Homo sapiens: one gene and its partner. The protein of the gene in region 2 binds, or shares a complex with, the protein of the main gene of each other region. Each region holds a gene or a part of one and is shown on either strand. Other genes may lie near its edges.

Region 1 (7,031 bases), on a different chromosome or scaffold from region 2:
TCTAGCCTGGGCGACAGAGCCAGACTCCATCTCAAGGAAAAAAAAAAAAAAAAAAGACTTCTTTTTTATTCCCCAAGGCCTGGAACTAAGAGCTTAAAAAGTGCTTACCCAACGAACAAAATCAGGGTGTTATCATATGGCCCTATTTCATAACTCCTCATCTTTTGTTTTCACATTTAGTATATTCAAAGACATGGTAAGGCAGTGGAAAACCAATAGTTTTTCATCAAGTTAACTACTCTTGAAATGTTCAGGAGAAAAAAACGTTTAAATTCCAACTCTTTGTCTTTGAATGTCCCAGGAACTGGTTTCTAAAACAATCCTTAACATTAAAAATATTTCAGAAAACAGAAGTTGAAAAGGCTCGCAGTGTGTTAGCAATCTGAATGATAACAACAAATTGATTTTAGTAGCAGAAACTGAAATATGACACCTGGAGCAGCATTTAAATTTGGATGTGTATAAACATCTATATCTTGGTGTCTGAACAAAATCAACTTGAAGATCATTTAAAAATATTCTATCTGAAAAAACCTGCACACAATCTGGTTAATGTATGTTTTTTGAACTGAGCATATAATAAGAGGACAATTTTTTGCCATTTTCATATACAAATAAAAACACTTCATCTTTTATCACTAAGGCCTGAAGAAACCACAACATTTTAAAAAAGAATAAATGCATAGTTGGTGCTTATTAAATAACTTAGAGTGTTAAAAGGTTGGACGTATAATTCTAATATGCTATTTCCATACAGTTTTAAGTTCAAGTCATAAACCTTTCCCAACATTAAAGGAAGCAAAATCGTTTTTCAAAGTATTTGTTTAAAAGGTAGACAGCTATTCTTCATTTAAGTACTAGGCAAGAATTTTAGACTTGTTCAATTAGAAAGCCTTTGTTTAGCAAATACAATGACTATGGCTGGTAGTTACACTAGTAATCTAAAAATAAAACAAGCTATTTCTGGTTTCATTGAATAAATCATTACAAGTACAATTTGCATCCCCAATAAAAGAGTCTAAAATTTAAAAATAAAGTACTCTTTTCCCCAAGAAAAGAACGTATGCTTCTGAAACAATGTATCTATAAATAAGATTAAATAATACACATTATCAACAAGAAATAAGCAATAACCCTGCCACTATAAAAATGCAAGCCAAAAGACAATTCACACTAGAATCTTAAATACCCACATACTGGGGACACTGCAGTTTACTAATCTACAGTCAGATCTCTTGGCCAGGTGTTGAAGCAGAAATATAAAATAATGTTACTGCATTCCTCACTATCAAAGAGAATACGAAATTAGTTTTAAAAGTCCCTTCTGACAAAATAATGAATTCCTCCCATCCCCCTCCGACAAGGGACCTTTTCTAAGGTGGGGGGAACCTATGCCATATAGAAATAAAGAATGCAAAACGTATACCTCCTGCCTCTTTGATGCTGCACAGCTTGACAAGCTGTCTGCATGAAAATAATTCCCTTCAACTCAGGAAACTCAAGGATCTCAAGATAATCTTGAACAACTTTCCAGTCTGGGATCACGTAATGAGTCACATCACTAGACAAGAGTTTCCCATCTGAAACATAATTCAAAATGTAAGAGATTAGACAATGTTTTCAAACCTGGTTTATTTAAATGTCACGGTGCTCTGGCATGCAAAATAACTTCCAGTCTTAACTCCATGGTGGGAGTTTTTAAAAGACAAATCTACTTTGGTAGAGGCCCAAAGTTCAGGTATATTGAGCACCCTCATTTTTTTGGAAGCTGTGATAAATACAAGCTCAACGTGGTTTATGGTGTTGCCAGAGGTGCCGGAGAGGATGGCTGATTTAACAACGAACAAGCACATTTTCAGCATAACCTGAATATTTCAGTGTTAACTCATCATTGACAAACACATTCAAATGAAGCACCCCCACATTTATACCACTTGTGTATGATGCCCAGCAATTTAAAGTTGGCTCTGTGTCAAGCTTCTGCACGTGCTCAGCAGCCTCCAAGGGCCAGAAAGATTGAACAGAGAAAATGCTCCGTGCAAGCAACGTGCAGAGGTGAGGTTTCCCACCAGACCTGCATCTGAGAGCTGGTTAGCCAAGCTCTAACTGAAATGTTCACCTTAATCACAATGTTTGGAGGATTCCACACATTCGCTGACAAGGACCCCCAGCCCATTCTCATCCTCCCATGGGGGAAGAGAGCCAGTAACGTGCATCGTTCTATCGGCCACCCTTGTGGCCTAGAAACCAAGGACTGGGGCCCAGGAGTCCCCAGTCCAACTTCCCCGTGACCTTCCGCTCCAGTGCGGGCCCAGAGAGTTCACAAATCTACGGTGAAGTGGCTCTCCACTGGGGGAAAAGTCTGGGGCAACAGTGCGGGCAGGTCAGGAAACCTGTGGCTGCAAAGCAGGCGATGTCAGCTTCGCAGCGGCAGCAGCTGGCCTGTAGCTCCCGGGGGCTCCCAGCTCGGGACCTCCCCATTTCTCCACGGCGCGAGGTTGCGGCGGGAGGAGGCCTCGGCTTCCGCGCCCTCAGGCCCCTCTGAGGAGCCAAACCACCCGGCCTCCGGCATGGGGTGCGGGTCTGTCGGGCCCTCCCATTGGACAGGGCGGAGCAGTAAGGGAGTCCCGGGCGCCCCAGAAGCCGCGGACCCGGGCCGCTGGGTCCCCACCGGCAGAGAGCCGGGGGGTGAGGCCGGCGAGCGGGCGCAGGCCGCGGGGCCTACGCCTCCGTGTCCCCGCCGCTGGCGCTCCGCCTCCCGGCCGCGCTCAGCCCCTCACTGCGGCCGCCCGCTCCCGCCGGCCCCGTCCCCGCCCCCGCCCCGGCCCTGACCGTGGCTGCAGGCGGCGGGCTGCGGGCAGAGCGGGCTGTGGCAGGGCACGCAGGGCCGCAGGTAGTGCTCGCGCACGATCCGCAGCGTGCGGCCCTGGAAGGTCCTCAGCAGCAGCACCTTCTCCCGCTTCTGCAGCATGGCGGCGTGTCTCCCGGCGGCCGCGGAGTGGCGGGCGCGGCGGAGGCAAGGCCGCGGCCTCGGACCCGCCCCTCGGCCCTAGGCGCCGCGGCTCCGGAACCGCCGTAACTGCCGCGCCCGGGGGAGGCCCGGAGCTACACGCTCCAGGCTGGGGCCCGGCCCTCCCGGCCTTAGTTTCTTCCCTTCCCTCAGTGGCCTGGACCAGGGCGGAGGGGTGGAAACGACCTACCCCAGAGACGGAGGGAAGACTAGGATGATACCTGGACGGCAGGTGAAGAAGGGCTGGGCGCAGCTGTCCAAGATTAGGAGACTTTGTTTGTCCCCCCCAGGTCCATGTGGGAATGGAGCCGCCGTATTAATACTAATACCGGGTAATTAATGTTTTCTCTTCGTTGCTCTCGCTATCTCCAAACGAGGTAAAAGACTCAGCACATAAGCCGGCAACCCTGCCAGCCGAACATTTCTAAAAAGTTATATTCATTTAAAATTACATGTACTTTTTTTAAAGTTTTTTTCTTTTTTTGTAGAGATGGGAGGGTGAGGGGGGCAGGTCTTGCTCTGTTGGCCCGGCTGGTCTCAGGCGATCCACCTGCTTCGGCCTCCCAAAGTGTTGGGATTATAGGTGTGAGCTGCTGCGCCTGGCCTTTCATGTTCTTTTTAAAATTTATTTATTTGTTTTGGTATCCCTATTGAAGTTATCATGTACTTATATAATCAAACAATGCAGATAAAATGAAAACCAATCTCTTCCCTTGAAGCACTGTTCCACTCCAACTTTTATAGCTTTTGCAGCCTCTGGCAAAGGATTTCTCCTTTAAACTGCCACTGTGACACAATCACAAACGTACATGTTTGTATTAATTTTTTTTTTTTTTTTGGACAGGGTCTTGCTGTGTCACTCATGCTGGAGTATAGTGCATGATCATGGCTCACTGCAGCCCCCGAACTTCTGGGCACAAACGATCTTCTCCACCACGCCTAGCGTTTTTTTCTTTTCTTTTCTTTTCTTTTTTTTTGTAGAGATGGGAGTGTCTCACTATGTTACCCAGGCTGGTCTCAAACTCCTGGGCTCAAGTGATTCTCCCACCTCAGCCTCCCAAAGTGCTGGGATTACAGGCGTAAGCCACCACGCCCAGCCTGTAGCTCTTGATAAAGAGATGCACACAGTCTCTTCTGAGATCACACACCCTTGATGGGATAGAATCCACTCTTCTTCCAAGCACTCAACTAAGACTTTTGAGCTGCACTAGCAGCTTTGTATACGTGTCCCATTTAATTTCCACAACAAGTCAAAGGAGTGGGGCATTATCATTCCTATCTTATAGACTATAAAACAGGGTTAGGGAAGTTAAGTGGCCAAGGTTACCCAGTTATTAAGTGGTGGGATCAATATTCAAGCCAGAATCTGACTGAATTCCAAGGAGGCTCAGAAGTAATTACCGTGCTATTCAGAGATGAGTAAAATACAGGTCCTGCATTTAGAGACTTTATAGTCTGCTTGGTGAGCTCCAGTTAAGGCAGCTCAACCAGCTGGCTGGAAACATCAGACTTCCTGTGATGCTGAAGCAGGCAGAACTGAGGATGCTCTGTTGGATGGCTCTTGTCACTCTACAGGAATGCATGAAAGAGAGCCACGATCTCCCACTCATTGTACTTCCATGTCAAGTTACCCTGCAGTGTGAGCTGATGTGAATGAGATCTGAGGTGGAATTGCACGAATTAGGAAAACAGCACAGAGCTGGCCTGTAAGGCAACCAGCAGTGCAGGAGGCTGTCCCTAATTCAGGAGGTCAGTTCTGGACAGCCCAGAGGACAGTCAAGTTGCCAGATTTGTCCCCTACATAAATATGTTCCAGGCAGCTGACCACAGTTCCCTTCAAAGCTCCCTCACGTTCATTTTTCTTTTATTTCTGATTATACCAGGTTATGGGGGGGGGGGGGTGTTGATTAGATACTAATATGCCCATGACATCGCTTTTTAGCACTTGGTAGCTTTAAACTTTCTTCAAATTGGGTCAAATGATCTTTTAAGGAAGAGAGTGTGTCTGGAGTTCTATTGAAAGTTGGCTTTATTAGTATTTTAAATAATTCAAGGTCCATTAAGCACTTCTTTTGCTTGCATTTTGGCGATAATGTATAAATTATGTTTTAAAAAGCATGATTCCTTAATTCTTGGAACTAATGAGCTAAAATGGACAAGAGTGCCTTTTTGTTGGTTGGTTGGTTGGTTGGTTGGTTGGTTTGCCTCACAGGCCATCTGATGCCTCTTGCCTGAAAAAAAGTGTCTATACTTGTAAGAATAAGCCAGTTTATGCTGTGGTAATATGCAACTTTAAAAATCTCAGTGACTTGGCCAGGTGCGGTGGCTCACGCCTGTAATCCCAGCACTTTGGGAGGCCTAGGAGGGCAGATCACCTGAGGTCAGGAGTTCGAGACCAGCCTGACCAACATGGAGAAACCTTGTCTCTACTAAAAATACAAAAATTAGCCGGGCATGGTGGCACATGCCTGTAATCCCAGCTACTCGGGAGGCTGAGGCAGGAGAATCTCTTGAACTTGGGAGGTGGAGGTTGCAGTGAGCCAAGATCGTGCCATTGCACTCCAGCCTGGGCAACAAGAGCAAAACTCCGTCTCAAAAAAACAAACAAAAAAATCTCAGTGACTTAAAATGACAAGATGTTGCCTAGGCACCAAGAGGCTCTGCTCTGTGCCCTTTTCCAGGACCCAGGCTGATAGAGCAGGCCCTCTCTGGAACACAGACTGTGGTCATTGGCAAAGGAAAAAAGTCCCCCAGAGAGTCTCATCCCAGCAATTAAAAGCTCAGTCCAGAAGTGACACATTTCAATTCTGCCTATTGACCACACAATAGGGGTGGGTGGGGCAGGAAGTGTGTGCCACCTCATGACCTGAAGGGCAGAGCACTGAAGCCCTTTGGTGAACAGCATCAGTGACTACCTGAGTGACCTAGCTCAAATCCCTTATCCCTAAATGAATCAGTCTGCTCTGCCAGCACCTTAACCTTTGTTGCTTGTGACTACTTCAGCTCAGCCCACTATCTGGTCTCTGCTTGGGCATTCTACTGCTCTCCTCTTTTCATATTTGATGTGTCTTTCCCAAACTCCATGACCCCGTAGGCCAAGGATATATCACCACATTATCTCTAATCTTTATCACAACTCTTCAGTGTAAATATGTGATTTCTTGTGGCAGAGACTGGTTCTGGCTCTCTGTTTGCCAAATCCATGCCCTCTTTTTCTCTGGGCACAGAGATAAATGACATTTCCCAGCTTGCCTTGCAGATACACAGGTGTGGCCATGTGACTGAGTTCTAGTTGGCGGAATATAATGGCACCATTTCCAAGCCTGGCCCATAAAAACCTCCCATGCATGCTCCTTTTCCTGTTCTACCAGCGGGAGACCAATGCCCAGGGGATTTTGAGAGCCAGCATTAGAGATGGCAGGCCCCTCATCAACTTGGGTCCCTGAAGGACTGTTCACAGCAGAGTGCTGCTGCCTTTGACCCAGGAGCATCCACAGTGGATTCTCTCTCTTTTTTTTTTGAGACGGAGTGGCCCAAGCTGGAGTGCAGTGGTGCAATCTTGGCTCACAGCAACCTCTGCCTCCTGGGTTCAAGCGACTGTCTTGCCTCAGCCTCCCGAGTTGCTGGGACTACAGGCGCAAGCCACCATGCCCAGCTAATTTTTGTGTTTTTAGTAGAGATGAAGTTTCACCATGTTGGCCGGGCTGGTCTCGAACTCCTGACCTCAGATGATCCCGCCTGCCTCGGCTTCCCAAAGTGTTGGGATTACAGGCGTGACCCACCGCGCCTGGCCCACAGTGGACTCTTGTAAGGGAGAAATAAACTTGTTACCGCACCTATCATCACCCTAACTAATTACTCTCTTTATAAAGGAGATTAAGGAACTTGTCCAAGAGTTGTGTAGGGCTATTTGTTCCAAAATCCTTCACTAGATATTAAATGTCCTCATGAAGCTGCTACAGTTTTCTTTTTTCTTTTGTTTTTTTTTTTCTTTTTTTTTTTTTGAGACAGAGCCTCACTT
Region 2 (6,908 bases):
ACACCTGTAATCCTAGCACTTCAGGAGTGGTCACGACTTCGAGACCAGCCTGGCCAACATGGTGAAACCCCATCTCTACTAAAAATACAAAAAACTGGCTAGGCGCAGTGGCTTATACCTGTAATCCCAACACTATGGGAGGCTGAGGTGGGTGGATCACAAGGTCAGGAGTTCGAGACCAGCCTGGCCAACATGGTGAAACCTCCTCTACTAAAAATACAAAAATTAGCCGGGAATGGTCGTACATGCCTGTTATCCCAGCTACTGGGGAGGCTGAGGCACAAGAATCGCTTGATCTTGGGAGGTGGAGGTTGCTGCGAGCCGAGATCACGCCACTGCACTTCAGCCTGGGCGACAGAGCAAGACTCCGTACTCCCCCCCAACAAAAAAAAAAAAGCTGGTCGTGGTGGTGTACACCTATAATCCCAGCTACTCGGGAGGCTGAGGCAGGAGAATCGCTTGAACCTGGGAGGCGCAGGTTGCAGTGAGCCGAGATTGAGCCAATGCACTCCAGCCTGGGTGATGGAGCGAGACTCCATCTCAAAAAAAATAAAAATAAAAATAAAAATACCTGCTACTCTACAAGTTGTGGGAAAGAATCTTGGATCTGGCAAGGCGCGGTGGCTCACGCCTGTAATCCCAGCACTTTGGGAGGCCGAGGCAGGTGGATCACGAGGTCAGGAGATCGAGACCATCCTGGCTAACATGTTGAAACCCTGTCTCTACTAAAAATACAAAAAATTAGCTGGGCGTGTTGACGGGCACCTGTAGTCCCAGCTACTCAGGAGGCTGAGGCAGGAGAATAGCGTGAACCTGGGAGGCGGAGCTTGCAGTGAGCCGAGATCATGCCACCGCACTCCAGCCTGGGCAATAGAGCGAGACTCCGTCTCAAAAAAAAAAAAGAATCTTGGCTCTAAGTGTTCACGTCCCATTTAATTAAAAAAGATTTGTACAAAAGTCAATATATTTTTTCAGTACAAAAGTCAATACATTTTTTAAAGGCTAAACTAAAAATATACCAAGTAATATTTCCCTAATCAAAATCCATTGCTTCAATTTTCACATTTTATAGCTCTTCATACCACAGAAAATGTTTAAGGAAAAATAAATTTCAGGAAAAATTTATCTACTTCTTTGTTTTCATTTCTTTTCACTAACACAAGAAAACAAAGTACAGTACTTACCACTGAAGCAACCTGTCTCCCTGTGTTTCGCAAAATGCTTGGAAGCCAGGAAAACTTCGGTAAAAATCATACTCATCGCCAAACTGTGGTAGGCCCCCAGATGCCTTGGTGACTGCCACCACGGACCCAAGAGCAAACTGTCAAAAACAAGAAAAGATGGCATGTTTACACAGGGATCCCCATTCATTTGGTATGTCATTTTTTTGATCTATCGTATACAAGGTATCTACTCTTCATCCATCAAAAAAAGCACTCATTTAGTGCCAAACCCCAATCTAATCTAGGCCCTGAGAATACAATACTGAACAGGAAACCAAGTTTGGAGCTTATATTCTTGGGAGAGTTGAGAGACAGAATACATACGTATATAATCTGATTAATATTCACAAATACCTGGGGTTGAATCTTGACTCTGCTACGTATTAACTGAGATCTTGGACAAGTGATTGCTTTATTTGGACTTTAGTGTTCTCCTCTGAGAAACAGGAAAAATAAAAAGGGCCTGCACCACAGAGTTTTTGTGAGGACAGAATGAATAAGCTAATAAAAGCACTTAGGACAGTTCTTGGCACATAAGCGTTATTATTACGACTCAAGTTCAGATCCAAGAGCTTTCTACAGGAATTTGTTTTTGTGTTTTCATCTGGATGAGCATCTAAAAACAATACAAGCTTATCCTAGATCCTTGGACGACAAATTTATAACAGCTACTATCTAAAACTGGATTTGTGTTTATTGTTCAGTTAGTGTCAAGTGGTTCTCTATTTTAACTGTTGTGAGGTAACGAAAAAAAGCCGTGAAGTGACATAAATGATGGCTGATCATGTGAAGGCCTAAAACGTCATTGTGAGTTTTGTGAATAAACATTTCCCAAGAAAAAAGCAGAGAAAGGAGGTGGGAAATTAAGTCACGGAGGGGAACATGGTAGCTTATGAGCATGACCGCCACACAACCAGGACCACAGTTAGTGGTCCAGGAACTATTGAGAGCCATGTTAATGAATCAATAGCATTAGCTAACAGCAAATTAGATAAGATACAACGTTAGTGGAATTTCTGTAAATTTATAGGGTTAATTTACAAATTATTTTAGTTTCATTGCTTTGTAAGAGCTATGCACACCTTAAGCCTAGTTGTACGTTTGCTCATATTTAAGCTAAGTTATACAAAGATCTTAAGTGAACGCCCTGTATACCTTCCAGGAGTTACTAATAAACGTGCAATGGGGCTTTAACAGGTGACATTTAACTCAGGGTTAAAAATTATGTAGGACTGGACTTCAGAAACAGAGGAAGAGAAGGGCCATACTGGCCGCGGGAGGAGACAACTCCAGGCAAGTGTGGGGAGCGCGAAGAAGCCGAGCCCCTGCGGAGAGCTGGTCGGGTGGCTAGGGCGTGGCGAGCGCGACGTCGCAAGGGCTAGGGACGTCTGGGTGGCAAGGAAGCCTTTCCCAGGATGCGAGACGGCTTTCCACATTTGGGCCTCCATGGACTTAGGCTCGCAAGCGGGACGCCCCTCAGTGTCCGTTTCCGAGGCCCCATCCCCGGAGGGTGCAGGAGAGTCTGCGCCCAGCGCGGACAGGGGCCCCGCGACCCTCGCTCGGGCTCCACTACGGCGGGCGGGCATTGGCTGCCCAGAGGGCCCAGTCGGCTTCCGGCGGCCGCGGGCGACTCCTGGTACCCCCGAGGCCCCGCGAACTCACCTTCACAAAGCTGTCGGCGTCCGGGAAGCCTGGCAGCACCATCTCTCCGTCGGATTTGGTTGCGCTGGTCGCCGACAGGACCCTGGGCTCCCGGGTACTGGGTGGCGCCATTTTTTCAGCCTGCACGGCTCGTCTCGCGAGAGCTTGTCGGCCGAGGAGACGGGACGCGTGCGCACCACGCATGCGCCAGGTCGAAGCGGCGGGCGGGGCGTCTGATTATAGTGTGGGGAGCCTGCGATTGGGGTGGGGCGCCTGCGATTAGGTTGGGAAGCCTGCGTTTAGGGTGGGGCACCTGCGATTAGGTTGGGAAGCCTGCGATTAGGTTGGGAAGCCTGCGATTAGGGTGGCACTTTCGAGCGCTCTGGTGTGAATTTCACGTTCTTTTACCTCATATTGTATCATCCCAACAACCCTGTGATCTAGGGTGCGGCCTGGAGGACCTGACTATCACATATATTTTTGACACGAGGTTTGCCCAATCTGGTTTCGAACTCTTGGGCTCAAGAGATCCTCCCACCTTAGCCTGCGAAGTAGCAGGGACCCCAGGCGAGGGCCACGATCCCCGCTTATCCTCGTGTTTATTTAAAAATTTAAAAAACAAACAAACCGGGATTACCGGGAGTGGTGGTGCGCATCTGTAGTCCCAGCTGCTCGGGAGGCTGAGGTGGGATGGTTGCTTGAGCCGAGGAGGTGGAGGCTCCACTGCACTCCAGCCGGGGTGACAGGATGAAACCCTGTCTCAAAAATTTCTTTTTAAGGTTATGTTTTTGAGGCTGGGCGCCGTGACTCACACCTGTAATCCCAGCACTTTAGGAGGCCGAGGCGGGTGGATCACCTGAGGTCGGGAGTTGGAGACCAGCCTGGCCAACATGGTGAAACTCTGTCTATACTAAAAACACAAAAATTAGTCGGGCGTGGTGGCACATGCCTGTAATCCCAGCTACTCGGGAGGCTGAGGCTTGAGCCCGGGAGGTGGAGGTTACAGTGAGCCGAGATCGAACCACTGCATTCCAGCCTGGGCAACAGAGTGAGACCTTGTCACAAACAAACAAAAAAAACCATGTTTTTGGGACAAAGTTTCACTCTTGCTCTCCCAAAGTGCTGGGATTACAGATACGAGTCATCAGCGTGCAGCCTATTTTTATTTTTATTTTTTTTGAGATGGAGTCTCACTCTGTTGCCCAGGCTGGAGTGCAGTGACGCAATCTTGGCTCACTGCAACCTCCCGCCTCCCGGGTTCAACGAATTCTCTTGCCTCAGCCTCCCGAGTAGCTGGGATTACAGGCGTGCACCACCACGCTCGGCTAATTTTTTTCGTATTTTTAGTAGAAACGGGGTTTCACCATATTGGCCAGGCTGGTCTCGAACTCCTCACCTTGTGATCCTCCCGCCTCGACCTCCCAGAGTGCTGGGATTACAGGCGGAGCCACCGTGCCTGCCCTGTTTATTTTTTTTTTTTGAGACAGAGTCTCACTCTGCTGCCCAGGCTGGAGTGCAGTGGTGCAATCTCAGCTCACTGCAACCTCCGCTTCCTAGGTTCAAGTAGCTGGGATTACAGGCGTGTGCCACAATGCCCGGCTAATTTTTTTTTTTTTTTTGTATTTTTAGTAGAGATGGGGTTTCACCATGTTGGCCAGGCTGGTCTTGAACTCCTGACCTCAAGTGATCCACCTGCTTTGGCCTCCCGAAGTGCTGGGATTACAGGTGTGCGCCACCAGCGCCTGGCTTATTTTTTTTAGACTGCATCTTACCAACCTGGTCTCGAACTCCTGGGCTGAAGCCGTCCTCCCACCTCACTGGGATTACAGGCAGGAACCACTGTGCCCGGCCCAGCCTCATATTTAAAGTCACCTCCTCCCAAGCTCTGGCTGGTTCTGTGTTCCCCTCACCCATTTGGTCTTGACTCCTGTAATTAATTACACCTCCCCTGCCCCCTGGATCTATCTTTTCCCTCTCTATTGGTTCATTCCTAACAGCCTACAAGTACACTGACATCTTTCCCAACTAAAAGAGAAAAGGAAAAAACACTGGCTCCCACATCTCCTTCCAACTGCCATCATCTCTCTCTTGCCCTTTACAGGTAAGCTCCTGAAGAAAGCGTCTAGCTCCAACTGTGCTTCCTCCCTCCAGTACCCTCTGAACTCCTCCAAGCAGACGTTGTTTCCTGCAGACATCGCTGGAACCATTCTGGTTAACACAGAGTGGGAACTCAGTACACATTTGTGAAGTGAACTCCTGGAAGAGCTCTTGTGAGGGAGGCACCGAATTATCAGGCAGCTCAAGAGATAGATTCACTCTCCTGAAATTAGAGATGGGATGCCCTTAATACAATTCATTCCACCCATTAAGTCTTCAATAAATGTTCAGCATATCCAGTTAAGAGAATACTTGCTTTTCACTTTTTCCGTGTGTGTGCTTCAGGTACACAGGTACTCTGGCAGGACAAACGCCTAGTTCATTTAGTATTTTTGAGGACCTATTTCACGTGGTTCAACCTAATACCACATGTCAGTCAGGCTGTGCTAAATGCTCCTCCATGGATTATCTTGTCTTTCAGACAGCCTCACAAGGTAGGGCTTACCCACACTTTCAGAGGAGACAAGCAGAGAGAATCTACGTAACTTATCCAAGGTCACAAAGGTACTATGAGATGCAGTTGATATTTGAAACTTAGTAAGTTGACACTACAGCCTTGATTCTTTTTTTTTTTTTTTTTTGAGATGAAGTCTCACTCTATTGCCCAGGCTGGAGTGCAATGGCATGATCTTGGCTCACTGCAACCTCTGCCTCCCGGGTTCAAGTGATTCTCCTGCCTCAGCCTCCTGAGTAGCTGGGATTACAGGCGTGCACCACCACGCCCAGCTAATTTTGCATTTTTAAGTAAGAGATGGGGTTTCACCATGTGGGCAAGGCTAGTCTCAAACTCCTGACCTCGTGATCCACCCGCCTCGGCCTCCCAAAGTGCTGGGATTATAGGCATAAGCCACCATGCCCGGCCTCAGCCTTGATTCTTAAAAAATACAACTGGCTGGGCGCAGTGGCTCACACATGTAATCTTAGCACTTTGGGAGGCTGAGGTGGGAGGATGGCCTGAGCTCACCAGTTTGAGATCAGCCTGGACAACATGGCAAGAATCAGTCTCTACAGAAAATACAAAAATTAGCCGAGTGTGATGGCATGCACCTGTAGTCCCAGCTACTCAGGAGGCTGAGGTGGGAGGATAACTCGTGCCCGGGAGGTGGAGGTTGCAGTAAGCTGAGATTGCACCACTGCCCCCCAGCCCGGGTGATAGTGCCAGACCTTGTCTCCAAAAAAAAAAAAAAAAAAAAAAAAAAAAGAAAAAAATAGTTAACCTGTTAACAACATCTGGTGATTAGGGGCTCCCATCCCTTTGAGCAGTCGAAAATCCACATATAGCTTTTAACTCCCCCAAAACTTAACTAATAGCCTCCTGTTGACCAAAGGCCTTACCGATAACAAACGGTCAACTGACACATATTGTGTGTATGTATTGTATTCTTACAATAAATTACGAAAATTTTAAGGAAAATATATTTACTATTCATTAAGTGGATCATCATAAAGATCTTCATCCTTGTTTATGTATTTATTTTTAGAGATAGGGTCTCTGTCATCCAGGCTGGAGTGCAGTGGCACAATCATAGCTTACTGTAAGCTTGAACTCCTGGGCTCAAACAATCCTCTGGCCTCAGCATCCAGGGTAGACTGGGCCCATGCCACCATGCCCAACGAATTTTTTTATTTTTTGTAGAGGCAGGGTCTCACTATGTTTCCCAGGCTGGTCTCAAACTCCTAGATTCAAGCAATCCTCTCACCTTAGCTTCTCAAAGTGTTGGGGTTACGGGCATGAGCTGCCGTGCCTGGCTGGACTAAACTGTATTTAAAGGCCTCCACTAGCTCCTCCTCTGCCTTTGATAATTTGTCTCAACACACCCAGAAGGCTTTGCTTAGATATAACTTAAAACCTATCGGATTCACCAAAGACCTTAATCCAGACTCTTA

The links. The genes of interacting proteins can lie anywhere in the genome.
Region 1: EXOSC10 (region 2) and DIS3L share a complex: the UniProt entries of both Homo sapiens proteins name them as parts of the RNA exosome complex.

The regions. Positions count from the first base shown.
Region 1 is NC_000015.10:66,289,537-66,296,567, reverse strand, and holds the start of DIS3L (DIS3-like exonuclease 1), read right to left. Parts: upstream 3,001-7,031; 5' UTR 2,972-3,000; coding exon 2,833-2,971; intron 2,754-2,832; exon of another isoform or gene 2,482-2,753; coding exon of another isoform or gene 2,394-2,481; exon of another isoform or gene 2,120-2,393; intron 1,581-2,119; coding exon 1,427-1,580; intron 1-1,426. UniProt on the Homo sapiens protein: Catalytic component of the RNA exosome complex which has 3'->5' exoribonuclease activity and participates in a multitude of cellular RNA processing and degradation events.
Region 2 is NC_000001.11:11,096,836-11,103,743, forward strand, and holds the start of EXOSC10 (exosome complex component 10), read right to left. Parts: upstream 3,035-6,908; 5' UTR 2,997-3,034; coding exon 2,886-2,996; exon of another isoform or gene 2,840-2,885; intron 1,322-2,839; coding exon 1,185-1,321; intron 1-1,184. UniProt on the Homo sapiens protein: Catalytic component of the RNA exosome complex which has 3'->5' exoribonuclease activity and participates in a multitude of cellular RNA processing and degradation events.